2 separate regions of the Homo sapiens genome follow, and region 2 is linked to region 1. Evidence: fine-mapped expression QTL. A gene starts in region 1. The other region holds a variant in brackets. All regions are shown on one strand. Distances are between the middles of the regions.

The links.
Region 2: its variant is fine-mapped to the expression of KATNIP in whole blood (TOPMed, PIP 0.94).

Annotation. Positions count from the first base shown.
Region 1 is chr16:27,545,658-27,561,341 of GRCh38, forward strand. KATNIP (katanin interacting protein) reads left to right here and starts at 4,487. Exons shown (of 28, transcript NM_015202.5): 1 at 4,487-4,520. The coding sequence starts at 4,514. GTF3C1 (general transcription factor IIIC subunit 1) reads right to left here and starts at 4,256. Exons shown (of 37, transcript NM_001520.4): 1 at 4,013-4,256. The coding sequence starts at 4,233. RefSeq lists enhancers at 4,153-4,232, 4,243-4,352.
Region 2 is chr16:27,767,215-27,782,988 of GRCh38, forward strand. KATNIP (katanin interacting protein) reads left to right here. Exons shown (of 28, transcript NM_015202.5): 21 at 2,647-2,804; 22 at 4,374-4,438; 23 at 5,885-5,995; 24 at 7,731-7,870; 25 at 9,714-9,815; 26 at 10,396-10,556; 27 at 10,667-10,755; 28 at 11,360-13,130. The coding sequence ends at 11,415. Among named protein-coding and RNA genes, the nearest start is that of KATNIP, 220 kb to the left of the region's middle. RefSeq lists enhancers at 2,223-3,422, 4,259-5,024, 7,261-7,761. The variant G/A (reference allele first, on the strand shown) is at 7,610.

The DNA.
Region 1 (15,684 bases):
AGATAATCTTGACAAGCAGGTTCCTGCCTTTCTATCCCACAGAACGCAGACCTTTCCAGGACTCCCCAGACTATTCCAGAAGCTGGGTGCTGGGACCTAAACCTCCTTATTGGCCAAGTCATGGGCTTTTGTTTCCCTCCAAATCTGGTACTCAGTCTCCAAACCACCAAGTTGGACGAAATGATTCAAGGCTTTCCTCCGCTTTTTTGAGATGGAGTTTTGCTCTTGTTGCCCAGGCTAGAGTCCAATGGCATGATCTTGGCTCACTGCAACCTCCACTTCCCAGGTTCAAGCAATTCTCCTGCCTGAGCCTCCCAAGGAGCTGGGATTATAGGGGTGTGCCACCACGCCCGGCTAATTTTGTATTTTTAGTAGAGATGACGGTTCACCATGTTGGTCAGGGTGGTCTCGAACTCCTGACCTCGGTGATCCACCCGCCTCAGCTTCCCAAAGTGCTGAGATTACAGGTGGGAGCCACCACAAGTGGCCAAAGCTTTCCTCCCTTTAAGATCTCATCTTTCCATCTCTCCTTAGTTATCTCTCTAATATCCTAACCCATTTTCATGGTTTGCATTACCGCCTGCATGTTAACAAGTCTCACCTTTGAATCCTCAGTCCTTTTTCTCCAAATACAGATCCAATGTCTTCACTTGTCTATTAAATGCCTCCCATTCCAAATATGATTACCTCTCCCCAGCTCCAATTAAGTCCCTTCTTTCCCCTCTTACTACCGCTTTCTTCCATGTGCCTCTTACAACACCATGGAGACATTTTTCATTTGTGCTTCTTTCATGCAGTTAGCCAAGCTTGTCAAGTTTTTTTTTTTTTGAAAAAAAAAAAAAATACATACATATATATATATATAATTTTTTTTCCCCTCACTATGTTGCCCAGATTGGTCTTGAACTACCGGGCTCAAGTAATCTGCCCACTTCAGCCTTGCAAAGTGCTAGGATTACAGGTGTGAGCCACCTTGCCTGGCTGCTTGTCGAGTTTTATTTTGAAATCTCACTCATATCCTACACTAGTCTAATTGCGGCTAAATCCTATGTACATGTTTCAGCCCTTTCCTTCCTTGCCCCCTCTGTGTTATCTGCACCATTTAACCCTCCATTCCTTTTTTTTAAGACTTGAGTTTTGATCTTGTCACCCAGGCTGGAGTGCAGTGGCGCAATCTCGGCTCACTGCAACCTCTACCTTCTGGGTTCAAGCGATTCTCCTGCCTCAGCCTCCCTAGTAGCTGGGATCACAGGCACCTGCCACCACACCCAGCTAATTTTTGTATTTTTAGTAGAGAGAGGGTTTCACGATGTTGGCCAAATGATCCACCTGCCTCGGCCTCCCAAAGTGCTGGGATTACAGGCATGATTCACCACACCCAGCCCAACCCTCCGTTCTTAAATGATCCTGTCTCCTCCCAAACTTCCAGAACACCACTCTGACCTGACTGTCCTCTACCTCTCCAGCCACACCGCCTCAGTCTTCTTTTGAAAGTCCCTCACCCTCCATCCAGCCTTGAAATGTAGGTGCACTGCAGAGCTATATCTCAAGACCTCCAACCACACTACACTCTCTCTTAGGGCTGATCTTAGCCAGCTGCTTTAATTACCAGCTGCTAGGAATGACTCACAGATGTCTAGCTCAGTCCCTCCCTCTGGCCTGCTTTCACTCCCACGAAGCCAGATGTTTACTAATTAAGACTCTTCACTTGGACAACTCAAAAGAACCTGAAGCTAAATGTGTCACATGTCTCTTCAGCAAAGTCCCCACCTCCCCCAGACTCAACCCCCACGCTGTTCTTCCGTGTTCCCAGCCTCAGAGATGAGAATCAGGGTTCGCTCAGGTGCCCAAACAGCAGCCTACTATGTCTTGACTGCCTGTGCTCTTCATCCCCACGCCCACCATGGTAAGCCAGACCATGACTAGATTACTAAAAATCTCTCAACTTCACTCTTTGCCCCTAGTCTGACCCTCTCTTCAGTGACTTCTCACTGTCCTTTTGATAAAGGATAAGCTTTTTTTTTGAGATGGATTCTCCCTCTGTCACCCAGGCTGGAGTGCAGTGGCACAATCTCGGCTCACTGCAGCCTCCACCTAGCTGGGATTTCAGGCGTCTACCACCACGCCCAGCTAATTTTTGTATTTTTAGTAGACATGGGGTTTCACCATGTTGGCTGGACTGGTCTTGAACTCCTGACCTCAAGTTATCCGCCCACCTCTGCCTCTCAAAGTGCTGGGATTACAGGCTGATAAACTCTTTAAGTAGGTTAAAAGACTTGATTCCAGTCCAATTTGGCTGGAATCTGAACTCAGACCTTCCTCAAAGTCTGGGTTCTTCCCTTGCTAGTTGACTTTTAGCATGCCACTTGACCCCTCAGGGCCTCGATTTTCTCTTCAGGAAAATGGGGAGAATATTACCCATCTCCTAAGGTTTCTGTAAAAATTAAATAACATGTTGTATTAAGGATCTTAGCACAGTCCTAGCTATTCCTCATTCCCTACCTCCAATTCCACACTTCAGCCACTTACTTCACATTTGCTGTTCTCTGTCCAACAGTCCTCTTTGCCAACTGGCTGCCTAAATCCAACCTTTAAGTTTTGTCTCGAACATTATTTTATTTTATTTTTGAGACAGAGTCTCACTCTGTCACCCAGGCTGGAGTGCAATGGCTGAATCTCAGCTCACTGAAACCTCTGTCTCCCAGGTTCAAGTGATTCTCCTGCCTCAGCCTCCTGAGTAGCTGGGATACAGGCATGCGCCACCACGCCAGGCTAATTTTTGTATTTTTAGTAGAGATAGGGTTTCACCACGTTGGTCAGGCGGGTCTTGAACTGCCGACCTTGTGACCCATCCACCTCAGCCTCCCAAAGTACTGGGATTGCAGGCATGAGCTGCTGCACCCGGCCTGTCTTGGACATTATTACCTCTTGGAACCTCCCCTGACCCTCACAATATGGCTTAAGAGCACAGACGCTGAAAATAGCCTGGGTTCAAATCAATTCTTAGTCACTTATTGCCCCCAGAACCTTAGGTTACATAATCCCTCTCTGTGACTCAGTGTCTTCCTCTGTAAAATGAGGACGATAACAGCACCTACCTCATAGGTGAGGATCAAGTGAATTTAATCTCCTGTTTAACGGAGTTTAATCAAGTGAGGATCAAGTGAGTTTAAGCTCCTAAAGCTTCTAGAATAGATTCTTAGAACAGCAATGTGGCCGGGCGCCGTGGCTCACGCCTGTAATCACAGCACTTTGGGAGGCCGAGAGGTGCGGATTGTCTGAGGTCAGGAGTTCGCGACCAGCCTGGCCAACATGATGACACCCCATACCTACTAAAAATGCAAAAATTAGCCGGGCGTGGTGGAACATGCCTGTAATCCCAGTTACTCAGGAGGCTGAGGCACGAGAATCGCTTGAACCTGGGAGGCGGACGGAGGTTGCAGTGAGCCAAGATCGCGCCACTGCACTCCAGCCTGGGCCACAGAGAGAGACTCTATCTCAAAAAAGAAAAAAAAGAACAGCACCTCACCCATGAAGTCCCTGATAAATGTCAGCTTTTAGCATTATCGCTAATTGTCCTGATACGCAGATCTCGAGTTGCCCTAGGCTATCTGCACCGAATGAATATACCATGAGGGTCTGTTGATCTCAGGAGTCTCCAGTCTGGCTCTAAAGTGTCTTTCCTGCTCTAATCCTATCCTCCAATGTAAAGGAAACATTCTTTTAAGCCTGAAGAATATCCCCAATCCTGTTCGCCATTACCCCAAAACACACACAGGGACAAAACGGGACATCACTAGATTCTCCCCCTCCCCCCGCCAACTCCATCGGACTCCAGGGCCCTGCCAGGCCTGAGGGACCCCAGATTAGCCTTACCGCCGTGCCCCAACTCAATCAACAGGCCTCCGGTACTTGCACAGCCCCACTCCATTCCCCCGCCCTGCCCCCAGCTCCATCAGCCCCCGGGCCCTGCGCCCGCCCGCCCGCCCGCCAGGCCAGGCCGCCCGCTGACCGGTCCTGGAGCTGTAGGTCGGGTCGCTCCCGAGGCTCCTCATAGAAGCTGATGCCCGGGTGCGTGGCGAGGGCCCGCCAGAGAAACTCCTGCGTGCAGGGTTCCAAAGGCAGCGGGAAGGGCGGCACTCGCGTCTCCAGCCGGCTCCACAGCGCTGGCAGACACAGGCCATCGAGCCCCTCCAGAGCGACTTCGTCCAACAACGACTCCAGCGCGTCCATTGCTACTTCAGTCGGCGGCGCCCGGGGCGCATGCGCAACGCACCGCCAAGGGCCTTGGTCCATCGCGCCTGCGCACAACGATCCGGGGCCCGGGGAGGTGGGTCAGACCCAGGGTTCGGAGGAGGAGTTCCAGCGCGCCGGCATGACGTCACTCCCCGGGGGCGGGCTCAGTAAGTGGAGCTCCACCGTCATTGGTCCGGGGCCCCGCAGTAACCAGGGGAACTGCAAACAGTGTAGAGGCCGCTTCCGGTTCGAGCTCCCGGAACCGCCGCCTCTAGGGATGGACGGTGAGTGTCTGTGGGCCCCTCCGGGAGGTCGGGCTGTTATTCTCCCATCCCTCCCGACCGCGCTTTGGGCAGAATCCTAGGCCATGAACCCCTGGACCACCACTTCCTGACCCAAGGGGGTCTCCGAAATGAGGGATAGGGAGGCTTAGTGGTCTGGAACGCGGAGGAGAGCCTGGGGGAGTGGTCAGTGCTGTGACCATTCTGCTCGGCTGTGGTCGTGAAGGAAACCGGTACTGGCCGGGAGCTCAGTGAAGGGATGTAGGGTGGGGAAGGAGAAGTAGAGGTCTGAGGAGGGTCTTGTGAATGTTGGGATGTGGAACTGTCGGATTTGGGAGTTGATATGAAAACAAGCTTGATCGTGGGAGTGCAATCGTCAGGTGCTGGGAAAGGGAATTGGTGTGGGGGGTGAAGGGAGTTTAGGAAATACTCCCTTTCTGTGCCTTGGCGTTAATAATAATAGCTCCCTTTAACAAAGTGCTTTCCAGTACCAAGAACTCTGTAAGTACTCTTGGGCAACACCTCGCTAAGCTTCATACCAGCCTTTTGAGTTCAGCGTTGTTCCATTTTACAGATGATGAAACTGAGGCTCAGAGGTGTTAAGGAACTTGCCCAAAGTCAAACAACCAGCATGTAGCAGAGTGAGTGAGAAACCCAGACACCCTGTCTCTGGAGCTGAATTATGGAGCTTGAGATTTGGACCGGTTTTGAGGGTCCCTTTATTCCAGAGGTTGTAAATGCAGATGTCTGCAGAGGAGAGTCTAGTGAGCCGGATTGAGGCTGTAACTGAAAATCAATTCCTCACCTGAAAGGAAAGCTGCTCACCAAGCACCAGCTGATTGTCCTCTTGGGGTACTTCTCAAAAACAGGGTTGGCCAGTCACTCTGAAGGCCAGAGACAGCTTGTGGGCCCCCATTTAGGGATCCCTGATTAGAGTCATGGTATTGACAATTGGAAGCAAATGGAAAATAGGCTATTCTGATATCTCACTTTGCAGATGGGAAGACTAAAGTCTAGAGAGACTGGTAGGGTCTGGGCTAGAGTCCAGATCATTTTTCTAATTACAGCACTGTCCCTCACTTCTCGGGAATTTGTTCCTGGGGAATCCACATTCTTTTTATATTCACTGAATGTAGTGTGGAGAAAATGTTTTTAATTGAACATTCTGTCATATGCTTAAAATATATCTTTTCCCTTTGTACTTTAGAGGTACTATAAAATGTGCTTTACCATTTTGCCTTCTGGAAAGGTCAATGTAATGTTGCTATAGAACATCAGTCCTCAAACCTTTTAAGCCTTGGGACCCCTGTATGCTCTTACCTCAAAGAGCTTTGTTTATTTATATTTATGATATTTACCATATCGAAGATTTAAACTGGGAAAATCTTAAGATGTCCATTAATTAGTTCCTTTAAAAATAATAAAAATTGGGCCGGGCATGGACTCGTGCCTGTAATCCTAGCACTCTGGAAGGCCAAGGCAGGTGGATCACTTGAGGTCAGGAGTTCGAGACCAGCCTGGCCAACATGGTGAAACCTTGTCTCTACTAAAACTTAGCCGGACGTGGTGACACATGTCTGTAATCCCAGCTACTTGGAAGGCTGAGGCAGGAGAATCATTTGAAGCCGAGATCTTGCCACTGCACTCCAGCCTGGGCAACAGGGCGAGACTCTGTCTCAAAAAAACCCAATAATAATAATAATAATTGGCCAGGTGCAGTGGCTCATAATAATCATAATAATAATTGGCCATGTGCAGTGCCTCACACCTGTGATCCCAGCAGTTTGGGAGGCTGAAGTGGGTGGATTGCTTGAGCTCAGGAGTTCAAGACCAGCCTGGGCAACATAGCTAGACCCTGTCTCAAAAAAACTCCAACAACAATAAACCCATTACTTCTGAACATAAATAATATTTTTAATGGAAAACAATTACATTTGCCTCCAAAAAATTAATAGGAAGAGTAGCATTATTTTATGTTTTTTCAAGTTTATTCAATAGAAATAGAAAAAACTACTCTCATTTCTGCTTCAGGATTCAAACTGTTTTTTGTTATGCTGTTTTGGCTGGTGTGTATGAAGAAAATTTGGCCTCATACAAATATATAATTGGAGCAGAGAGAAACATTTTAATTGCCTTTTCAGATAACTGTAGACACTCTCCTTTCATACTATACAAAATTTAGCAAATGCCAGTTTCTTTTTTCTTTTTTTTTTTTTTTTTGAGAAAAAGTCTCACTGTCGCCCAGGCTGGAGTGCAGTGGCACGATCTCAGCTCACTGCAACCTCTGCCTGCTGGGTTCAAGCGATTCTCCTGCCTCAACCTCCCGAGTAGCTGGGATCACAGGTGTGAACCACCATGCCCAGCTAATTTTTTTTATTTTTAGTAGACATGGGGTTTCCCCATGTTGGCCAGCTGGTCGCAAACTCCTGACCTCAGGTGATCAGCCTGCCTCCATTTCCCAAAGTGCTGGGATTACAGACGTGAGCCACCATGCCTGGCCTGCAAGTGGCAGTTTTTTTTTTTTTTTTTTTTTTTTGAGACGGGAGTTTTGCCGTCGTTGCCCAGGCTGGAGTGCAATGGCCTGATCTCGGCTCACCGCAACCTCCGCCTCCCGGGTTCAAGCGATTCTCCTGCCTCAGCCTCCCAAGTAGCTGGGATTACAGGCATGTGCCACCACGCTCAGCTAATTTTGTACTTTTAGTAGAGATGGGGTTTCTCTATGTTGGTCAGGCTGGTCTCAAACTGCCAACCTCAGGTGATCCGCCCGCCTTGGCCTCCCAAAGTGCTGGGATTACAGGCATGAAGAACCATGCCAGGCCACAAGTGGCAGTTTCTTAAATGTTAGTCACAGTGTGTCATCTGAAGCCTTATAGGTGAACTTTTATACTGTGTTACATTAAAATCCATTGGTCTATCTTGCCCTTTCATTGGCTGCTTTACCCATATATGGTTTTATAACATCAGCCATTGGTCGTTTAGAAAATGTTGGTTCAGTGAGTTATGCAAATCTAAACGTTGACCTTTCAGATGCCATTATACGGTATTTAAAAAATCACATTTGTTAATATCACCACCTATTTCATTTTAAAAAGGAGTTTAAGTATTAGGAAACTATCAAACTCAAGGTAATGGAAACAAGTTTTCAACTTGTTTTCACTTGACAGCTTGAATTTTAACATTGGCAGCAAATATTGTCAGCTGTTTCCTTGAAGTGACAGACTCACTTATTTCATATTTGAGAAAATTTCTGCCAAATTCCCAAGACTGAATAACCAAAATTTGTCTATTATTTTATTTACTGCCATGTACTCACATTTAAAACAAACAAACAATTATTTTTATTTAAGAATGTCCTGATGGTTGGGTTCAGTGGCTCACGCCTATAGTCCCACCGCTTTGGGAGGCCAAGACAAGAGGATCTCTTCAGCCCAGAAATTCAAGACCAGCTTCGTCAACATAGTGAGACTCCATCTCTACTAAATAAATAAATAAAATAAATAAATAAATAAATAATAGTCAGGCATGGTAGCATGCACCTGTGGTTCTAGCTGCTAAGGAGACTGAGGTGTGGGGATCACTTGAGCCCAGGAGGTCAAGACCAGCCTGGGCAACTTAGTGAGACCCCATCTCTGTAAAAAGTAAAAAATTAGACAGGTATAGTGGCTCGTGCCTGTAGTCCCAGCCACTCAGGATCAGTTGAGCTTAGGAGGTTGAGGCTACAGTGAGCCATGACTGTGCCACTGCACTCCAGCCTGGGCAAAAAGACCTTGTCTAGAGAGAGAGAGAGCAGGGGGTGGGGTGGGGGGAGAGAGGAGAGAGAAAGGAAGGAAGGAAAGAAGGGAGGGAGAGGAGAGAGAAAGGAAGGAGGAAAGAAGGGAGGGATGGAAGAAGGGAGGGAGGAAGGAAGGAGGGAAGGTTTCTAGTACATTGTGGTAACATTGCCTTGATTCAGACTGCAAGCAGTTTTACCCACCATTGCTTTGTGTCATAAGTACAAATGTCAACACAGCCAGATGGGGTGGCTCACGCCTGTAATCCCAGCACTTTGAGAGGCCAAGGTGGGCGATCACCTGAGGTCGGGAGTTTGAGACTAGCCTGGCCAACATGGTGAAACCCTGTCTCTACTAAAAATACAAAAATTAGCTGGGCATGGTGGCACATAACTGTGGTCCCAGCTACTTGGGGGAGGCTGAGGCAAGAGAATCGCTTGAACCCAGGAGGCAGAGGTTGCAGTGAGCCAAGATCATGCCACTGTATTGCAGCCTGGGCAACAGAGTGAGACTGTCTCAAAAGAAAAAAAATTCAACACAGTGAAATACTCTTCAAATTATGATTAAAATACTTTTGTCTTTGTGGACCCCTCCTTCTCCCAGGATCTGCACCTTTGAGAAACATTGCTACAGTCCATTTTCAGGAAGGCTGCTTTGTGCCTTCTAATGAGCATCTCTGTACTTGCAGTCTTAGGACGTTATTGTAGCCTAGTAGAGGGGTATGTTCATTTTCAGATTGGCCCCCAAAAGGAAAAATTTATTCTCAGAAGTGTTTACCCTAGGGTCATATTTGACCTCCAAAGAATCCCATTTTCTGTTCTGATTTTTTAAACTTTGATTTACACTTTTTTTTTTTTTTTTTTTTTTGAGACAGAGTCTCGCCCTGTCACCCAGGCTGTAGTACAGTGGCGTGATCTTGGCTCACTGCAACCTCTGCCTCCCAGGTTCAAGCGATTCTCTTGCCTCAGCCTCCTGAGTAGCTGGGATTACAGGTGCACGCCACCACGCCTGGCTAACTTTTTTGTTTTTTGTTAGTAGAGATGGGGTTTCACCATGTTGGTCAGGCTGGTCTCGAACTCCTGACCTCAGGTTATCCACCTGCCTCAGCCTCCCAAAGTGCTGGGATTATAGCCATGAGCCACCGCACCTGGCCCTGATTTATACATAATTTTATAGGCACATACCTATTTATTGGATAAAGTGAAGCATACCTTATTGTGATTCTAACTAACTAGGTAAGCCAAGCCTGGCCTTATTAGAAAGATGTTTACTTCCTACGTTCACAAAAGCTTAAATGTCTAGCAGATGCCCTCCAAACTGGACTGTAATTTAGTTTATTCGGCATGTCTTAATCACCATAGCTTTTCACAACCCTTTCCCTGGCCTTTTGATTTTGACTTTGGGCAGGTCCTATCTGTTTCTGTGATGCAGTGTAATGTCCTTAGGTTTGGGGGCCAGATAGCCCTGGATTTGAATCTCTGCTGTACACTTTGACCTCTCTGAGCCTTGGTTTTCCTGTCAGTAAAATGGACATGATAATGAAGCCTACCTTGTTTTGTGGCTTCAATGAAACAATGCATCAAGTCTGGCATATAAAAAAATGTTCCTGGCTGGGCGCGGTGGCTCACGCCTGTAATCCCAGTACTTTGGAAGGCCGAGGCAGGCAGATCACCTGAGATCAGAAGTTCGAGACCAGCCTGACCAACATGGAGAAACCCTGTCTCTACTAAAAAAATGCAAAATTAGCTGGGTGTGATGGTGCATGCCTGTAATCCCAGCCACTTGGGGGGCTGAGGCAGGAGAATCGCTTGAATCTGGGAGGCAGAGGTTGTGGTGAGCCGAGATTGCGCCATTGCACTCCAGCCTGGGCAACAAGAGCGAAACTCCGTCTCAAAAAAAAAAAAAGTTCCTACAGCCAGGCGCGGTGGCTCATGCCTGACTTTGGGAGGCTGAGATGGGTGGATCACGAGGTCAGGAGTTCAAGACCAGCCTGGCCAAGATGGTGAAATCCTGTCTCTACTAAAAATACAAAAATTAGCCAGGTGTGGTGGCGGGTGCCTGTAATCCCAGATACTCGGGAGGCTGAGGCAGAGAATTGCTTGAACCTGGGAGGCGGAGGTTGCAGTGAGCTGAGATTGCACCACCGCACTCTAGCCTGGGCCAGTGAGTGAGACTCTGTCTCAAAAAAAAAAAAAAAGTTCCTATATAGTAGCTGTTGTTATCATTATCTGCAAATAGGCAGACTTATTCCACACAGTTGACAGAAGAGGGAAGCGTGCTGATGAAGCTCTCTAGCAGATGATAACTTTTGTAATTAGCACACTCTTTGCTTAAGAGAAAATCCAATGTTTGACATTTTTTATTCCATGAAGGTACATTGGCAGTGTGTGTTTTCTGCCTATGAAAATGTTCGCCTTTCTGTTAAAGTTGAATTTTCCCCAGTACTTTAAAAATATGAAATGGTTTAGGAAAAAAAATTCTATTTCATTTTCAAGGAACATAATAATTAGACAAAAGTTCAGCACATTGATATAATTAGAAAGGATTTGGAAGTTGTTCATTTGCTTTTCACTGCTCCCCTAGAGCAAATATTCAACATTTCCCTTGTTTATACTGTTCATTTGCTTAGCAAACTTTCTCAAATAATTAATAATGCCAAGATGATATTTAGCCTCACTTGTCCAAATAATCCCAGACTGCAAACAGGTGATGGTTGAATTAGGAAGGTTTTGCTGAGAGTACACCATCGGTTTAGCTGGTCTCTCCTGTCCTTGTGTGGTATTTACCTGGCTTCTTGGTGATTTGTCTGTTTCTCTTACTACTTAAACCCAGCAAAAAAAATAATAAAATAACAATCAAATGCAATAAAACAAAGCAAGCATTCAGCAGGTGAAATAAACATACATCCCATAGACTCTTTGTGTCTGTTCTGTTTTCTTCTTGTTCCAATCCTTCTATCTGATTAGTTTCTTTTCTCTCAGATTTTTTCAGAGTTCGTTCCTCCTGTCACTTTAACTTATAGGAAGTCGGCCCATAATGTTTTGCTTATTTTTCCTTATGAGATTCATTCCATGATTCAACATTTCAGTGCCTTCCGTGCATTGGAATTCAGAGATGCCAAAATGAGTAAGATTGAATCCAGGTGAAGGCGATATGGGAATTCATTGTACTATTCTTGACATTTTTCTGTGAAGTTGATTTTTTTTTTTTTTTTTGAGGTGGAGTCTCACTTTGTAGCCCAGGCTGGAGTACAGTGGCGCGATCTTGGCTTACTGCATCCTCCGCCTCCCGAGTTCCAGTGATTCTGCTGCCTCAGCCTCCTGGGTAGCTGGGATTACAGGCACATGCCACCACGCCCAACTAATTTTTGCATTTTTAGTACAGACGGGGTTTCACCATGTTGCCCAGGCTGGTCTCGAACTCCTGACCTTAGGTGATCCAACCCTACCCCTTGGCCTCCTAAAGTGCTACGGTTACAGGTGTGGATTTTTTTTTTTTTTTTTTTGAGACAGAGTCTTGCTCTGTTGCCCAGGCTGGAGTGCAATGGTGAGATAACTCACTGGTGCGTCCATCTCCTGGCTCAAGCGATCGTCCCATGTCAGCTGTCCAAGTAGCTGGGACTACAGGTGTGTGCCACCATGCCCAGCTAATTTTTTATTTTTTGTGGAGATGGGGGTCTTGCTATGTTGTCCAGGCTGGTCTCCATCTCCTGAGCTCAAGTGATCCTCCCACCTTGGCCTCCCAAGTTGCTAAGATTACAGGCATGAGCCACTATGCCTGGCTGGAAATGAATTCTTTATATCAGAGCTTGCACAAGTGGGCTGAAACAGCCCACATGCATGTTTATTTGGCTCATAATGTTTTGTTTTTTAAATTTTTGAATTAGTTGTCAACATTGAAAAATGAGCAGATTTCTTATAAATACCTGATTGTGGTATTTTCTTGAAAATATCAATAAAGTCTGTTAACACCAAATCAGAATTCTGCATGGCAACAATTGTCCCACCACCCGAGTTAAGTGGAGACTTTGCCCTTTAAGAGGGAGGTGGGCCTGTCTAATGACTGGCTTCTCTCATTGTGTCTGTCACTCCTAGGCCTGTCAGCATTTGTACTTAGAATTCTACTTTAGTATTAACTTGTACAGTTGTGAAAACTCCTGTGGACTTCCTTGTATGCCATACTGGACTATACTTATTCTTTTTGTTTGTTTTTTTGTTTTTAGATAGAGTCTTGTTCTCTCACCCAGGCTGGAGTGCAGTGGTGCGATCTCAGCTCACTACAGCCTCTGCCTCCTGGGTTCCAGTGATTCTCCTGCCTCAGCCTCCTAAGTAGCTGGGATTACAGGTGTGTGCCACCACACCTGGCTAATTTTTGTATTTTTAGTAGGGATGGGGTTTCATATGTTGGCCAGGCTGGTTTCGAACTCCTGACCTCAAGTGATCTGCCTGCCTTGGCCTCCCAAAATGCTGGGATTACAGGCATGAGTCACCATGCCCAGTTTCTTTTTGTTTTAATCTGAAAAAAAGGGAATATATTATCTGCCTTTAGAAACTTCATAGTATGGTGAGAAAGCAGACATAAACAGATGACTACATTTCAACATGGGAGTCCTTAGAAGATAATATTTGTAGAGGTCTTCCCCTTTCCCAAAGCAGTGTGGCCCACTGCCTGCTATTGTAAATAAAGTTTTATTGGAATGCAGCAGCACCCTTTCACATACATATAGTCCATGGCTGTTTTCTTGCAGAGTTGAGTAGTTGTAAAAGAGACTTATGTGGCCCACGGGCCAAAAATATTTACTATCTGGGCCTGTACAGGAAACGTTTGCTGACTGTTGCCGTGGCAGATCTGATTTGATTCCTGAGACAGCTCAATGGGATACTGTGATTGTGTCTGTTTTATACCACACACCTAGTAGGTAGCAGAGCCAGGACTCAGTCGAATAAGGTCTACACTTGGTAGTATGTTATGGAAGGCCCATTTCAGCCTTGTTACTGCCAGTGTGTGGCCAGGTTCTCACACCTGGAGAGTGAGTCTGTGGGGAAGAACTGGCCACTGGGCTGATGGAATAATATACATTTTGAAAGGTACCCGTTTTGACTACATTCCCAGCTCCCTCAGCATCTGGTCCCATGACTGCTTCTCTCTTTCCAAATGGGAGTAGGCTAATGCAGAGCAATGTGGTTGGTTGCAAGGAAGAACTTGAAACTGTTTGCAGAGCACTTTATGTAAAAGTAAGAAAGTGTGACTACTGATGTCCCATGGGGCTTTGCAGCTTTAACAATTGCCCTATGGATCATATCACCTTGAAGTATAGAATTTCTCTGGGGAATTAGCTCCCCTCCAGTCTCATCTTTTTAGACACTTGCCTACCTGCTCTCACACCCAGAGGTTTTACACTGCGCTGTACAGTGTCTATCAATATGTTTTTCCATATTCAAAAATAGTGATTTCAGGCCAGGCATGGTGGCTCATGCCTGTAGTCCTAGCACTTTGGGAGGCTGAGGCAGGAGGATCAGTTGAGCCCAGGAGTTTGAGATCAGCCTGGGCAACACGGTGAGACCCCACCTCTACAAAAAATTGTTAAAAATTATTTGGGCATGTTGACACATGCCTGTGGTTTCAGCTACTCGGGAGGCTGAGGTGGGATCACCTTAGCCCAGGAGGTTGAGACTACAGTGAGCTGTGATCATGCCACTGCACTCTAGCCTGGGCAACAGAGCAAGACCCTGTCTCAAAAAAAAAAAAAAAATAGTAAGGTCATGGTGGCTCATACCTATAATCTCAGCACTTTGGGAGGCCGAGGCAGGCGGATCACTTGAGGTCAGAAGTTTGAGAACAGCCTGGCCAACATGGTGAAACCCCGTCTCTAGTAAAAATACAGAAATTAGCCAGGCATGGTGGCACCTGCCTATAATCCCAGCTTCCTGGGAGACTGAGGTGGGAGAATCATTTGAATCCAGGAGGCAAAGGTTGCAGTGAGCCTAGATCGCGCCACTGCACACCAGCCTGGGCGACAGAGCGAGACTCTGTATAAAAAAAATAAATAAATAAAAAATCCAGGTGTGGTGGCTCACGCCTGCAATCCCAACACTTTGGGAGACTGAGGCGGGCAGATCACGAGGTCAGGAGTTCAAGACTAGCCTGGCCAACATGGTGAAACCCCGTCTCCACTAAAAATACAAAAATTAGCCGGGCGTGGTGGCGGGTGCCTGTAATCCCAGCTATTCAGGAGGCTGAGGCAGGAGAATCGCTTGAACCTGGGAGGCAGAGGTTGCAGTGAGCTGAGATCGCGCCACTGCAGTCCAGCCTGGGCTATAGAGTGAGACTCTGTCTCAGAAAAAAAAAAAAAAAAAAAAAAGGTAATTTCACATAAGAACCTGGACTTCTCAGTCTCTTGATAAACAGGGTGCTTTGGGCCCTCAGCACTTTCTTGTCACGTAGCTCTGGTCCTCTAGCACTGAACAGTGGCCACCCCCTTGACCTGGGACATGTGCTGATGACCCCTTCTGGCTGGTGTTACCTGTCATCTGGTGCTCACTTCTTCCATTGATCATATTGGCCTCCTTTGCAGGCATCTGAGATTTCAATGCCAGCCCGAGACACTTGGGGAGGTTGGCCATCTCTGGAGTACACCGTCTTCTTTCGCACCTCGCTGCCTTGCCTGTGCTGTGTTCCCTGCCAGCTGTGCCCTTCTTTCAAGTCACTTCCACACTGTAAATTGCAGTGACCAGCACCACCTGCAGAATTAGCTACTCCCCCATGGCAGGACCCCATAGCTAGTCAGGCATTGTGTTGTATCACAGGGACGAGCTCTATGCTTTTCTCCCTCTTTGAGGGTAGAGACTCACTTCTTTCCTTTGTATGCCCAGCACCTGGCACAAGGACTGGCACAGGCAGATCCCATGAGTGTTTGCTGGGTTGACACTGTAACCAGGAAAGAGATTAACGGATTTGTTCCCTAGTGAATTGCTGGACATTCTCCATAAAGTAGACAAAGGAAAGGGCCTTGTAGCCAAGCTTCCAGGCCAAGCTTCCAGGGACCGTGGCTGCATCCTTTTTGTCTTTTTTTTTTCTTTTTTTTCAAGACAGAGTCTCGCTGTGTCACCCAGGCTGGAGTGCAGTGGTGTGATCTTGGCTCACTGCAACCTCCGCCTCCTGGGTTCAAACAATTCTCCTGTCTTAGCCTCCCAAGTAGCTGGGACTACAGGCGCCCACCACCATGCCTGTCTAATTTTTGTATTTTTTTTTTTTTTTCAGTAGGGACGGGGTTTCACCATATTGGTCAGGCCGGTCTTGAACTCCTGATCTTAGATAATCCACCTGCATCGGCCTCCCAAAGTGTTGGGATTACAGGCGTGGGCCACTTTGCCTGGCCTGGTCCTTTTTCTCTAGTG
Region 2 (15,774 bases), 220 kb after region 1:
CCAACCAGCTGCGTAACCTCTGGCACGTGGCCTGCCTTCCCTGGGCCTGTCTCCTCATCTATAAAATGAGGAGGGAATAACACCTGCCACGGCGGATTGGCATCACCGTTGCCAGGTAACAGTTGACAAAGCCAGGACTCAGCCTCAGGTGATCCCCAGATCTGGGCTCCCCACCATATACCCACCATGGAATTTATTCTAGGGCCTTAGGAATTGTATCACAGACCAGGTGTAGAGGCTCACGCCTGTAATCCCAGTACTTTGGGAGGCTAAAGTTGGAGGATGGCTTGAGCCCAGGAGTTCTAGACCAGCCTGGGCAATACAGAGAGACCCCCATCTCTACCAAAAAAATAGGCAGGCTTAGTGGCACACACCTGTAGTCCCAGCCATTCAGGAGGCTAAGGCAGGAGGATCTCTTGAGCCCAGGTTGAGGCTGCAGTGAGCTATGATCTCATCATTGCACTCTAGCCTGGGTGACAGAGCAAGACACCATCTCAAAGAAAGAAAAATGAAAAAAAGAATTGTGTCACATCTTACAGCAGGATCGGCAGCCCCTGGCCCTCCCCGTGTAGCAGGAGCTTAGCCAGCATGCTCCTCTGAGCAGGCCGGTCACAGACCCTCCCAATGCCGCCCTGTGTCTCTATGAACGCTCCCCTGGGTTCAACACATTGAAGAAGTCAGATATATTGACATTAAAAAACAGCCTTCTGCCTCAAGTTGTGCCTTTGGGCCTTAAAATTCCCTTGAGCAAATCACAGTCTGTCTGGTAGAGCTTCTGTGACCTGAATTCACCATCTGGGGATGTTGGGCTGAGTTCCCATCTCACAGGTCTGGGCCCCACCAGCCAGACAATGGCTACAGTGGGATGAGGTGGGGGTGGGGGGGAATGGGCACGTGGCCTGAGATGGGAGACCCCCACTGCAGTGAAATGGGTGCTTTGACTCAGATCCCACACCCCAAAAGGCCTTCCCGAGCACCAGGGGTCCCTGACATGTGGTTGGAAGCCAGGGCCCTGGACTCCTGGACTTGGGGCTTCAAATCCCTTCAGTGGCCCTCGGGCAAATCACTTAGTCCCTGTGAAGTTTAGCTTCCTTCCCTATAAGATGGAGGTGGTGATAGAGGTCACCTCGAAGGGAATGAGCAGAGGACATGTGGCCAGCTCTGCCCAGGGAAGTCAGGGATGCTTCCTGGAGGAGGTGTTGGCCCTGGAGGATGGACAGGGGCTTCCTGGGCCTCTGCTTTGCCATCACTGAATCTACTTTTGGGCGACTCTGTCCAGGGCACACTCTGGCAGCTCCAGGCTTATGTCCTGCTAGCTCCAAGCCCAGCAGAAGAGAAAGCTCCCCTTTCCAGGCAAGCCAGCAAAACCCCAGGAGTCATGCTGATGGGCCCGGCCATGTTTCAAGTTCAGCTCAGGGGGCCCAGGTAGGAATCCCCCTTGAGGAAAGCAGATGGAGAGATGGAGGACAGGGACCAAGTTCTAGTGACAGCCACGCCCGAAGCCAGGTAGCACCACACTTCAGGTTTACTTGTCCTGTAACTGACATAGAGGGGCTCCCAAAATGCTGAAGGAACGAGGGGCCCCAGGGGCACATGAGAGCCAGGTCAGGGACCCTTCCTCCCTTCCTTTCTGCAGGAGGAGCGCCTCTGCCTCTCCCTAGAGGAAAGGCACCAGTTGGATCAACAGCTGCACCCATGTTGCTGACCACGAATGTGGGCTAAGGTGTCGAGGAGAACCAGGCTCCAAAATCTGAAATCAGAGAGTGATGGCTGTTGCCCCTCCCTGCCCATAGAGCAGGTGGTGGCTGGGCCGCCTCAGACTCTACCATTAGGACTTTGAAACTGACCAGTAGAACCTGGCCATCTGGCTGGAGAACTCTGGCTAGAACAGGGAGAGATGTTGGCTCAAATCCACGTGAATCCTGCAAGCTCTTAGAAAGCATCTGCTGTGTTCCAGGCCCTGAGGCAGACAGAGAGGTGGTCCAGCCAGAACCTCTGCCATAAGAGAGACCCAGAAGCCACTGGGATGCTGCTAGGCATACAGGCCCAAAAAGGATGAGCTCAGTGCCATGAGAAGGAAGATCAGAAAGAGGCCTGTCCTGTCCTAAGGGAGAGCTCCCAGAGGGGTATTGATGTGTGAGCCAGGGGTTGAAAAAGGAGTGATAGAGGCTAACATTCACGAAGTATACAGTTTGTGCCAGGCTCTGTTTAGGGCACTTTACGTAGGTTAACTCATGACCGTGCCCATTTAACAGATGAGGAAATTGAGGCATAGGGAAGGTAGGTAACATACACAGCTACTAGTGGTGCACATGGAAGCGCCTGAGTCCATGCCCTTGACCTCCATCTCATGCCGCCCCAGGCCGCTGCAGCTGTTGAGGTGGGCGAGGCCTTGGCCAAGTCACGTGCCACCCCTGAAAGCCGTGGACCAGTGTCCGCTGTAGCAGGGGGCTCGCCTGTCTTGTCCTCTGCTACCTGCCCAGCGCCCACACAGCACCTGATATGGGAAATGGACCTCGGTCAGGTGGCTCTGCGAAAGGCTCCCCATGGTGAGCACAGCTGCCAGCAGCTCCGGTCACGTCAGCACCGCTTCTGTCCCCACATGGCCTGCCTCCCTTCAGTCATGTTATTTCTTTTGTTTGCCAGGCCAAGATTGTCCACGTCTCCCTGGATGGCCTGTGCGTCTCCCCGCCAGAGGGCTTTCTCATCCGGAAGGGGCCAGGCAACTGCCACTTTGATTTTGCTCAAGAAATCCTCTTCGTGGACTACCTACGGGCTCAGCTGCTGCCCCAGCCGGCCAGGAGGTGAGGAGAAAGTGGGCGCCACACACAGCCCCTCCCGGCCCCTGGGCCCGCTTGCTTTGCAAGTTGCTCTGATGTACATTCCGAAAGGGTTTTGAAACGATGATCAAACGCATTGCTTTTCAACTTAGTCATTTTCTAAAGCTCAGCCAAGCCTCACCGGAAGCCTGTGGAATGGACTTACCTTGTCTGGGGACATTTGGGTTTTTCACAGTCTGGAGTGCTGAAGATTTTAAATGCTTCATTGCGTTTCCTGCTGAGAAAAGAGGCTACAGCCTGCCTCCATTCCAGAAATGCCTGCCGGCCAGTTTGGGGAAGGGCCTTCCTTCTCCCGTTTCTGTGTTCCTGATTTAGAAAGATTCAAGGAGAAAAATAGAGCTTAATATTTCATGGATTCACTGGGATTTCTCGGCCCCAGTCTCAGCTGCATTAAGTTCATAACGATTTGTAAATGCCACGTTAAGTTTACTCATTGAAACCCCCTGATGTCCAAACGCCAGAGGCCAAGCTCTTGAAACAAAATGAGTTTCCCTGCACTGTAGCGGGGTTGGCTGGCTGGGCTGGTCACTAGGAAGTCATTTAATTGTAACATTGCCCTTGAAATGGAAGAGAACCAGGCTAGGGCTGGAGGGCACTGACAGCGGACCAGGGAGAGGGGCCCCGTCAGGAGGGCCGTGGAGGAGAGGATCCTTCCCGAGGGCCAGCTGTGTGAACACTTTGATGTGTCCTTTGGGAAATCCTTCCAGCCACCCTTTGACCTAGCCAGTATGATGCCCGTTTTACAGATGTGGGAACTGAGGCTCTGGCTGGTGGAGCCAGGTGCTGAAGATCATGAAGCCAAAGCCATCAGGGCTGTGCCTGCCTTCCAGCCTCCTCTCACTTCCCTCTCCCCATCCTGCCCCAGACTCCAGCCCTCTGGCCGCTTTCTGGGGCAAACACCAGCAGCCCAGTGACTTCCCACCTTGGGCCTTTGCTCTGCTGCTCCTCTGCGTGGAAGGTTCAGCTCTGGCACTTCCCAAGGCTGCCTCCTCCTGGAGGCCTTCCCAGAGCACTCCCTGAGGCAGCCTGCCCCACCCAGTCCCTCTGCCCTGTCACCCCGTCCTGGCTGTCGGCACAGCGTGGACCCTCCTTGTGTTTAAAGACATAGAGGGGGTTGGTTAAGAAAGGGGGCAGTGGTACCAGGCAACCTCACGTCCCATCCCGGTTCTGCCACTACCAGCTGCATGGCCTTGAGCAAGTGACCTCACTTCTCCGTGTTCCAGTTTCCTCATCCACATCCCAAGCATCTAAAAATACCCACCTCCTAGGGTTGTGTTGAGGAATAAAAGAGTCCATTTCAGGAAAGCCCTGAGCCCCGTGCCTCCCTGGCACAGCATCCTGCCAGCATTGGCAATGACTGTCATCTAGAGCGGGAACTCCACACGAGCAGGGGCCTCATCTCTCTTTTCCCTGCTGCATCCTAGGGAACGCTAAACTGCCATGTTTCTTCAAAGGCTGTTACCTAGGGGGTAACTGGCTGGTGATTCTGGGCCGTCGTGAGCTTCTTCATGGTGCTGTTTTGTGCTTTTTCAGGCTGGACATGAGAAGCCTGGAGTGTGCAAGCATGGACTACGAGGCACCGCTGATGCCCTGTGGCTGTATCCTTCTCCTCCCGCCCCACCAGCACATTCTGGGCCCCGAGGCAGCGCCTGGGCCGCAACTGCCCAGCCAGGGTTTCAGGCGGCCACAGATGAGGCAGCTGGAACTCCATGCAAGGAAACCAAGGCAGAGGATAGGAGGCCTCCTGGGTCCTCAGGGCCACTAGGAGCTGCTGGAACTGGGGCAGCCAGGCTAGTTCCTGCTGAGGCTGGAGGGGGCAGCACCCAGGACTCCAGCTGGGAGGGGCTAGAGAAGCTGGCACTGACCCCAGTGGCTGGACTGGGGAAGGGGGGTGTCCTGGAACCAGCCAGGGAGGAGGTGAAGATAGAAATAACTTGGCAATCCAGGCACAATAGCTCACACCTGTAATCCCAGCGCTTTAGGAGACCAAGGAGGTTGGATTGCTTGGGGCCAGGAGTTTGAGACTAGCCTGGGCAACATAATGAGACTCCATATCTTAAAAAAAAATAAATAAATTAGCTGGTGGTACATGCCCATAGTCCAAGCTACTTGGAGGCTGAGGTGGGAGGACCTTTTGAGCCCAGGAGTTCGAGGCTGCAGTGAGCTCTGATTGCACCACTGTACTTTAGCCCAGGCAGCAGAGCCCAGCACTCTGGTACTACTATCATTCCCATTTCACAGCTAGGAAAACTGAGGCACAGAGAGGCTCAGTAATTTGCCCAAGGCTGCACAGGTGGGAAGGGGTAGGGCCCAGGGGAGGTGAACCCAGGCAGCCTGGCTCTAAGGCCCGCTCTCTAGCCAGCCAGTTCTGGAAGCACTGTCTCTGGCTATGCCATCATCTGAGAGCCACCCGGCCTGCTCCTGGGAGTGCGGGGAGTGAGCAGAGCACAGGGCTGAGGAAAGGCTTGATGCCCAGCTCTGCACGTGGGACTTCAGCAGCAATGGTGGTCTCCTTGCCCCGGCCCATGGCCCCTGGCGCTGTGAGGTTTATGTGTCCCCTTCTTAGCCTCCTGTTTACTTGAAAGGGATGGAGGAGGTTGCAGGTACTCTGTTCTTGTCATTTCACAACCAGGGAAACTGGAGCATTTTGTTCAATACCATACAATCAGTTTGTGACACAGATGTTTCCCCATCCTGCCTGCTCCCTGGAGAGCACCCTCTCCTCCCGTCCTGTCTCCTGGGGCCTAGAGGAAGGCTTTGAATTCCTAATACACACACACACGGGCACACGCACACGTGCACACATGCATGCATACACACACATGAACACTCACATGCACACACACACACACATGCACACACATGCAATTTAAGAAAATGTGATGCTACCTATATTTTGATAGGCTCTAGTTGCAATAAGAGAAAAATGTTTTTCTCTCATTCATCAACATAAACCCAAAACAATTCCTCTTATCTTTGCCATTGTTTTACTATATTCTGAAAAAAAAAAATTAAGCCTTCTTTTCCTTAATAAAGTGTCCCAGTCATTTTCCAGTTTCAGCTTCTCACCAGCTGGGGCGACCCCTACTACATCGGCCTCACCGGCCTGGAGCTGTATGACGAGCGAGGAGAAAAAATCCCCTTGTCGGAAAACAGTATCCTTTGTAGGACAGGAGTGGGCTCCACCCAGACTGAAGGGAGCATGGGAGGGTCGGGAACGGGGCAGAAGCCTTGTGTGCAGAGGGAAATGGCCCTCTAGGAACCAGAGCCCAGGGGGCTTTGCTTATAGTCAGATGCTGACCCTTGGGGACGGGCAGCAGAGAGCAGCTCCCAGCCCTGCCTGCTAAGACATCAGGAGCAGGAATTCCACAAACCAGAGTCCTGTGGTCCAGTGAATTGAGAGAGGCTGCCAACTATAGCGCCCCCTTCTCGGAGAACCACAGATACTTTGGAGTTCCAAAGGCTCTGACAAGGTCTGCAGGGAGAAGCCTGTTGCACTGTGTTCAACTCAGTGTGTCCTGAATTTCTTAAGTATGGAACCCTTTGTGCATAGTATGCCCACACCAGAATTTGCAGACTGTTAGCCCAGTGCATTTTAAAATGAGTTGCTAATATTTTTAGAAATCACGAGGTTTCACATGAAAACCCTGATCTCTGGTTTCCCCTGAGAAATTGGCAACACAGGCCCTTGATTATGCATAGTGACAATGGCTGGACCTGGTTATCTGTTGCCATTTCTCCCCAAGCATATCCTTCTGGTCTACCTTAGCCCCCCACTCCTCCCATTGTTATCTACCAGGCCCCGAAACTCACTGCTAATATTTTCTCAGGGCTCACTCTGTGCTACCTCATCTGCCCTCACAACAATCTTGTGAGGTGATTGCTGCTGTTATCCCCATTTTACAGATGAGGAGCCTGAGACACAGAGAGATTGAGTAACTTGCCTAATGTCACACAGCCAGTGAGTGTCCAGACACCAGCTCTTGACCAAGCAGTAGGCTATCCTGCCTCTTTCATGTAACCTGCCTGGCCCCCTCGGATCTTGAATCTGTGATCCCTGGCCCACCACAGTTAGGGAAATACCAGGGCAAGTCGAACCCCAAAGCCTGCCTTGCATCTGTTTGGGGTCCCTGGCTTCCAGTTGGATCCTTTTCTGCCTTCCCCTGGTGCCACCACCCTCCTCAGCTGGGATGAATGATTCTTGATGTTTTAGATCATTATTAGCGACTCCTCGAAGCTATAAAGTTTCATTGATTTTACCAAAGTGCTCACATCTGGTGCACTCTGAGATCCTCACATCCATCCTGGGAGCTGGAGGTTTTTATACCCATTTTACAGATGGGAAAACAGGCCCAGGGTTGACCTGTGACTTGCCCACGCCCTCACAGGTCATAATGGCAGAGGCAGAGCTAGAAGCTGGGTTCTGCAGATCACATTAGCTGGGTCCAGCTGCTCCGAGGTCCTTCCACACTGACCAGGAAGAGAGGCTCGGCATGATACTCACATGCCAGGGTAGAATCCAGCCACCGCCCCATTCCCTTCCAAAAGAAAACCTCCGCAGAGCTTGCCCTCCACCCTCTCAAGCAGCAGCAACATTTTACGTCCCCAGCTCTGGCAGTTCCCTGCAACGTCTCTTTTTCAGCTGGCCTTCTGTGTGGTTTCCTTCTCTCTCTACTTGAAACTGACCACCTCTCCAGACACACCTGCTCCCCTTGGGCCCGGCACTCCCCGTTTCCCCAGGACACGTCCAATTCAGCTGTCACTGCTGC[G/A]GCTGCCCAAAGCATCAGCCCTGCCAGCCCCAGAGTCCCCCGAGCCACGCCATCAGCCTGAGGGTGGCTGGCAGCCCCGAGCACACAGATTTGGGTTATGGCAACTTAGACGTCTCCTCAGATATTGCGGCCTTCCCCGACAGCGTGAACTCCCTGGAGGGTGTGGGCGGGGACGTCCGCACCCCAGACAAGCTCATCGACCAAGTGAACGACACCAGTGATGGCCGGCACATGTGGCTGGCTCCCATCCTGCCGGGCCTGGTGGGTTCCCGGCAGCGGCCACCGCAGCTCCTGGCCCTCAGGCGGGCAGGGGGACTTTCTTTCCCTGGTCTCAGTGACACGTCTTTCTTCCAGGTCAAGTTAATCTCAAGCCAAGATGCTTGGGAGCTGTCAGAAAGGTTTAGGTCTTTGCTAACTTGCCTGATGGGGTCAGCTCTTCCAGGCCAGCAGTTCTTTCTCTTTTATAAGTGGACACCTGGGGCGAAAGGGGTCCCATGGGAATCTGAAGCCAGGAACCCCAGCACAACTGCCTGAGGGCTTGGGCGTCCTGGGTCCCTGCAGGCAGCCCTCTCTGGTTCTCTGCTCTGCCTGGCTTTGCAGCCACTGTGCCCTCTTCCTCCCCACCCAGCTCTCCGCACACTCACGGTTTCTGCCCCTTCCTACATCACCAGGTAGATGACCCCAGTACGGCCGCCCTGCCCTCCTTCTGGCCCTAAATTGGCCTGGTCAGCTCTTCCGACCAACTGACTCAGTTTCCCAGATCTCAAATCTTGCACTGGGTCCTGCTTAGCTTTTAGCTCTGAGGCCTCATGGTGAGAAGACGTGGTTGGTTGTGGTGGAGAGGAAGGGGAGAGGGCATGGACGGGGTGGTCAGCCCCCCTGCAGCCTCTCAGCCCAGGGCCAGGTGCCTGGTAGAGATGCACAGCGGGTTCTTGGCAGCCATATGACTAGGGATGTGTCCCTTGTCCATGCCATGGGACTGAGTGGGGGATCGGGGGCACCTTTTTCTCTGAAAACACAGGAAGGTACAGCATCAGCAATTCTATGACGGAAGTTTTCCAAAGGCCACCCTAAAATTAGACCCCCCCTATTGAGCGTCCTCAGCTTCCCCTGCCCCATTGCAGAGGGGGCAACAGAGCTCTGTCCTCCCTGAGACTCAGGCCACCCACTGACGGCCAGCGGGTATTTTCCATTGTCTAGCACTGGAAGGCCTTTTGGGGTGCGGCGACTTCAGCTGTTGCTCTCGCGGCTGGACTCCAACATCTGTATCTGCTTGAGCCTCACAGGCAACTGAGTTTGGAGACCCTCACCCTGACCTTTATTGTTTCCATGGTCCAGCCAGGAGGCTGGCCCTACCCGAGCAGCCGCACTCCCTCTTGGCATATTCTGAGGATGGTCACAGGCTGGGGACCAGGGCCTGGGGCAGGACTGAGCCTGCAGTCTGTGGCCAGTGTGGAATGCTTATTTCTTGATTCTGTCTTGCAAGGGAGGGCCTCCCCTAATATCTGAGAGCTTTGGTTGGGGGTGGGGAGAGGGAGGGCTGTTTGAGGCTGCTCCGTCCCACTTTTCCCACTGGATTCTGCCCCGATCTAGACAGCCCCCTTTTTACTCCCCCAGCGGAGGTTCACAGACACGCCCTGGACATTGTCCAGCAGCACCTTGGCGTTGCTTCTCAGTGATGGTTTGGGGAAAGGACAGACAGGGTCAGATGCTGATCACCATGGCTGGTGCTCAACCCGAGTTGGGGACTGTCCCTTTAGCTCATGGGGCTCTAGACTATTTCTGGGCCTGACCTGAGGGGACGTGGGGGAGGGCCGAGGATGTTCCCAATCCTCCACTGGCATTTAAATGAGGGCTCCGACAGGCCCAAGAACACAGGCCCTCCAAAAGCCAGCTCAGCGGTTTGTTGCAAATGCAGCCACACGTGACCTGACTCAAGATGGGCTTCGAGGAGATGAAAGGGGGCGGAACTCCAGGCTGGCCCACGTGGCAGGCGCTGCCTTGGGCACCACCGCTCACCCCAGCCCACGCCTGGCACCCCCAGCCCAGCCAAGCGCCTCTGTTTCCAAACATGCCTGTTTTAATTAGTGCCGCTCTCTGACAGGTGAACCGGGTTTATGTGATTTTCGATCTGCCTACCACCGTGTCAATGATCAAACTGTGGAATTATGCGAAAACACCCCATCGAGGGGTGAAGGAGTTTGGCGTAAGTACTTATTAGCTGAGTTTTTTGAGATAATTATGCTCGTTGGTAATTAGGCCGCCGGCAATTATCATTTGTCGCAGTTTGATTTACTTCTCTCTGTTGCAACCCTCAACACAAATGCCTGGTCGTCAGATGCAGGCGAATTTCCCACCCAACCATGAATTCAGAACCTGCTGGCAGTGATTTCAGTGTCACCCTGAGCAAATAGAAAGTGGGTTTTCTTTCGTCTTTTCCTCTAGAATCCCACTGGTTTGGGGCGGTGACCCTGGGATGGGGAAAACAGGGACCCTGGATACCAGAGACCCAAGTTTGCCTCCAGCTCTGCCACTTGTGCTAATGGTATTAAAGCCCCTCGGGCCTCAATTTCCTCATCTGCAATGCATGCTGATAGCTCCTGCCTTTCCCAATGGTTGTGAAGATCTGAAATCACAAGGCAGACACAGCACACAGTAGGCGCTTGTTCCTGACAGCCCCGTCTTCCCGAGGAGAAAGCCTTGGCTCAGAGCAGTAACGCGTTCTGCCCAAGGTCAACGTGGGAGGGACGAGGGGGACCCATGAGTCCTGCCCCGTGTCCCTGCAGCTCCTGGTGGACGACCTGCTTGTGTACAATGGGATCCTGGCCATGGTGAGCCACCTGGTGGGGGGCATCCTGCCCACATGTGAGCCCACCGTGCCCTACCACACCATCCTCTTCACCGAGGACAGGGACATCCGCCACCAGGAGAAACACACCACCATCAGGTAGGGCCCCAGCCGGCCCCATGGCCTCCCCACCAGCCCTAAGGAGGATGGATGGCTGGGACACACGGCCAGGAGCCTGATCGAATCTTGTGTTTCCTTCCTACCCTCAGTAATCAGGCCGAGGATCAAGATGTCCAGATGATGAATGAAAACCAAATCATTACCAACGCGAAACGGAAGCAGAGCGTTGTTGACCCAGGTCAGTGGCGTTTCTCTGCCCAGAGCATTGTGCCTTGGGAGCTCGGTCTGAATATAGAAGGAGCTGGTGGCCTTGCACCCCCACCCTCACCCCTGCCTGCCCCTAGACCGCTCTCCTCTGCCCAGGAGCCTGCCCAAAGGCCTAGGGAGGGACTGAAGAGGATGGAACCAGGGGAGCAACATGCTTCCATCTTCTTGCAGGCACCTGTAACACAGTGGAGCTTCCTGAATCTAAGTGTCGTGGGCACAGAGTGGGGAAGCAGTCAGGGACAGAGCACCATGTTAAAGGGGTTTGCCCCGGGCCGTGGGAAACCAATAGAGGATGCCCAAGGTGAGGGCTTCCCGGAGGAGGTGATGTTTGAGCTGGATCCTAAAGGATGTGAGGAGTGTGCCAGGCAGCCTGGGCAAAGGCTGAGAGGGGTGTTGTGGCAGAGCCTGCTCCAGGCGGAGGGAAGGGGCCAGCGTGCCAGGCGCCCCGAGAGCAGGGACTTTTCCAAGGGCCTTGAATGGCAACCCAGGCTGCTGGATTTCACTGGGGAGTGTGGGGCACCCCTCCAGGGTTTGAGACTTAGTAACTCTGGTCCCTCTGTTCCCTGTCATGACAGCCTTACGTCCCAAAACCTGCATCAGCGAGAAGGAGACGAGACGACGGCGCTGCTGACTGGTGAAGGAGGGAGAGCTGGTCCTCCCACTATGGTGGGCTCCGTCAGCAGCCCCACTCAGTGCCTGCGTCCCTCACCCTCAGTCCCAGGAGCTGGAAGCGAACCACAGTGTTGAGGGGAGCCCGCTGGGAAGAGGGGACTCGGGAGGACAGCCCTGGATACTACCAGAGTGACAGATGGCTGTGGCTGCAGGGCAAAGAGATCCCCTGCAGTTCTGGGTTGGCCACAGGGAGCCCAGGACACCCGCCTTCATGCCTCTGCTGTGAGACCCAGCAAAGCAGGGCCCATGACCACTAGGGCCTGGGCTGACCCTGACTCAGAACAGGACAATGACGGGGTGGGGAGGCATCCCATCCAGCCTCAGAGGGCCCAGAGAATGGCTGAGCAGGACAGTGGGAGACCAGACCCTACCCCGCAACTCCAGTAAGCAGGGCACTGCCCAGGGAGACTGCCTTCAGAAACCTGAGCTTCAGCGGCCAACACCCCCCATCCCCTGCGCATCCTTGTCTCATTTGGGGACTGGTGGAGCTGGCTGAGAGGTTGGGGTAGTTTCCTGGTTACAGGGGTCCACAAGACCCTCTCTCATCCCGGTATAGGGGCCTCTCTCCTCTCATCGGGCCTGATAAGGGATTGGCCAAGGCTGTGTGCATCCTGCAGAGGGAAGGAAGTCAGCTGGGCCACCCGCCATCCACCTTGGCAAGAGCTGGGCCCACTCTGGCAGGCCAGGGTATCATCTGCGTGCTGCTGCCGGGCCAGGAAGGGTGGGTGGGTGGCCAGCAGGCTGGCAGCTCCAGACCCCAGAGGGCCAGAAGAACTCACCCCAGTGCCCTCTGGATGCAGGTGTTGGGGAACACTGAGGACAATCCCCCATCTCCCCTCACCCTTGAGCAGGCCCTCCCTGCACTCTCTGCCACATGTCCCTCCTGGTCTGATCACGGCTGTGCTCACTGATGTGGCTGCTTTCTGTCTCTGCCCCTGTGCCCTTGGAGGCAGGCAGTGAGGTGCTCCTTTCCCAGGCCCCCACCCCTTCTCCCCCTTCAGCCACTTCCCAGCGAGTTGGAAATGTGCCTTGCACCCCCAGCCGAGTGAAGCCCAGAACGCATCTATATGCATCGATGTAACAAGCTCGGATCAGGGACCTAATTGGTTTCCCAGTAGTGGGTAATTTCTCGTTGCAAATATTAATCCGTTGTTTTTCTGGCGCCCAGCCCGGCCCGCCGCAGTACTGTACTCGAGGTACGTTCCTATGCAACCGAGAGCCCCGGCAAATACTTCATGAGCTTAGCAGCCTGGGCTCGAGCAGCTATGCAAACGCGCTTTTCATTTGGAGCACGGGGCTGATGTGAAGATAAGAATTGTTTCTCCTGGAGAAAGATCCATCATTTCTCCAGCTTCCAAGCCCCCGGCACCTCTGCTCAGCTCCCAGATGTGACGAGCACCTCCCGCCAGGGGGAGTCAGGGGTTGATCAAACCAGCTCTTGTGACCCAAACCAGTGCCGCTGCATTAAAGGGAGGCCCAGCTACTCCTTCCCAGCTGAGATGTGGGTACAGGTCAGATTTGTCAGGGAGATGGCACTAACACGACACAAGCTCACTCCCAGAACCGCAGCTGATGTTTATAATAATCGTATGTACTGTGCAATTTAGGAGGGGAAAAAAAGGCTGTACAAGCTTTAACTCTAAAATAAATTTCTATTTTTTTCCTCTTGCAAAATTAATAAAAGATGTTATTAAGAATATAGTCCGAGTCACCGGATTTGGGGTCAGATGGGGAGTCCATGCTGCCTCCAGGAGCTGAGTGACACAGAGAAGCCCTCACTGAGCTGCAGATGGGGTCATGATCTCGCCCTGACTACTCAATGAGATTGTCCTGCCGTATGAGCAGACAACAGTAGCTCATCCATAGAGAGTGGTGATTACATGCCTGGCTCTAACTTGTTTAATCCACGTAACACAACCCTTTGGGGTGGGCACTATTATTATCCTCACTTTACAGATAAGGGAGCTGAGACACAGAGAGGTTGTGCAGCTTTCCTGGGACACACAGCTTTGGAAGCTATTAGCCAATGCACAAATCCTGAGAGGGCCCCTGGAGAGTTGAGGTGGGGGTGACAACACTTGGGTCTTTGGCCCTGGGGTTTCCCTTCACCATGTGTGGATCCTGGAATGGTGGCCCCCAGACCCCCAGTTCCTGGACCTCCTCCCTGCCCACCCCCATGCCCCTGCTGCCTCCAGGGGTGAGTGTTGGCAGCTTGTGGCTTCTGGATAAAGCAGCCCTTGAGTGGAAAGAGGGCTCAGTTGAGGAGGGTCACACTGCAGTTCAGGCACCGGCAATAGCACTGGCAGCAGGTAGGAGAGTCCTTTAGAAACCCTACTTTGCTTCACTGTGTGGGTCAGAGGAGAGAGCCCCCTCTGTCCAGCCAGGAGAGGCCCAGCCCCAAGCATAGAGGGAAAACAGCAGGGGCTCCGGCCGGCCTGCTCCATGCCCCCTGTTCCCTCTGATTTCCTAAGAGACGGGCCTGGCTGTGCCCAGCCATGCTAGTGTTGGAAAGCAGTCGCCCTCCCTCCTTTTGGTGGAAGGATCTCTGGGCCAGCCCTGGAGACCCTCGAGGGCAGCCCAGACCTTCCAGCATTCCCTCTGTGAGAGTGGGAGGCCGGCAGGGGTGTCCCAGCCTCTCAGCTCTGCTGAGCCTCTCCAGCCCCTGCCAGAGCCCTGGGGTGGAGTCCTGTTATTCAGGGGCCAGACAAGTGATGTCAGGGAGTGATGTCAACACTGGCCTGCAAGGACCGTGGTTGACACGGCGGCACAGGCCCTTCGAAGGGGTCAGCCACACCTCAGATCCAAGGGGCCAGCAACATCCGGTCTTCAAGGTTTCTTTTTTTTTTTTTTTTTTTTTTTTTTTAATTGAGACAGAGTCTGGCTCTGGCTCTGTCGCCTAGGCTGGAGTACAGTGGTGTGATCTTGGCTCACTGCAAGCTCTGCCTCCCAGGTTCATGCCATTCTCCTGCCTCATTCTCCCAAGTAGCTGGGACTACAGGCGCCCGCCACCACGCCCGGCTAATTTTTCTGTATTTTTAGTAGAGACAGGGTTTCACCATGTTAGCCAGGATGGTCTTGATCTCCTGACCTCGTGATCCACCCGCCTCAGCCTCCGAAAGTGCTGGGATTACAGGCGTGAGCCACCTCGCCCGGCTCGGTCTTCAAGGTTTCTAAGAGAAGCCAGACAGCCAGGCGTTTCTTTTATCTTTAATGTGAAATCTAACTTTTAAATGTTGGCTCAACTTCAACAAACAGGCAAACACACACTGAGTGAGCCAAGTATTGAATAAAACCCGTCCGCAGGCAGGCCCCGGTCCGTTCACCAATCCTGCTTGCTCAGCGGGCCTCCCTTTCTGCCCCACCTCCAGCCTGGGGTTCAAGAAATGTCCCAGGCTGGAATCTCCCAGCTCCTCTTCCCTCTCCAGGGAGGAAAAAGGAGAGAGGGCTCCTTCCTAGCCTGTCACTCCCACTCCTCAGCCCCCAGATGGGCAGAGACAGGACGACCATCAGGTGACACCTCTGGGTCCTGGAGGCGGCAGCCCCCACACTCAGCTGTTGTGGGTAAACAGACGTCCTCCTTTCCCTCCACATGCTGAGGCTTCCTATTCTGTGCAACGCCCCCCGACCCCCAGCGCCCCAACAAACAGAGACATAAATGACTCCCAGGCTGCCACTGTCAGGGGTCAGGGCTCGTTGGCTCCCTGGCATAGGTGACTGGAAATGGGCCTCCACTGCAGCTGACAAGAGGGTTACGGCACGGGCTCCCAGTGGAGGCTCCCACAGGCCTCCAGCCCTTGGGGACCTGCCTCCTCTGTTCAGCAGTGGGAAGGACCTGCTTCCCACCCCCCTGGAAGTTCCAACACTGGCACTGCCACCCCAGAAGGACCCAGAAGGACCCCCCCAGAGCCTGCCAAGGGGGGCTTCGCAGCCAGGCAGGTGGCAGCTGCCCCATGCGAGGCACGTGTGCTGAGATGCCCGGGTTCCCTCTCCCAGCCTCACCTCCCGCCTCACTTGGAGCCAGGACAGTCCCTTTCCAAGGCCCCCAGGCTCCACCTGGCCTCTTCACAGTCCACAATCCAGTGGCCCAGCCTCTTGGGTTTGGCGGACTCACTAGGCGATGCTTAATTTTTTTAAAATGAGTTGCCTTCCTTTATTATCAGGTTTCACATTAAAATTCAGATTCCCTGCTTCTCTGGAAAGACAGGAAGATCTGGCAACCTGGTCCCACGTTCCCAGCTGGCCCCAGAGCCTGAGCAGTGCTCTCCAGATGGTCCTGGTCCCCGCCAGCCCCTCTTGTCCCACCCTTGCCTGCAGTCCT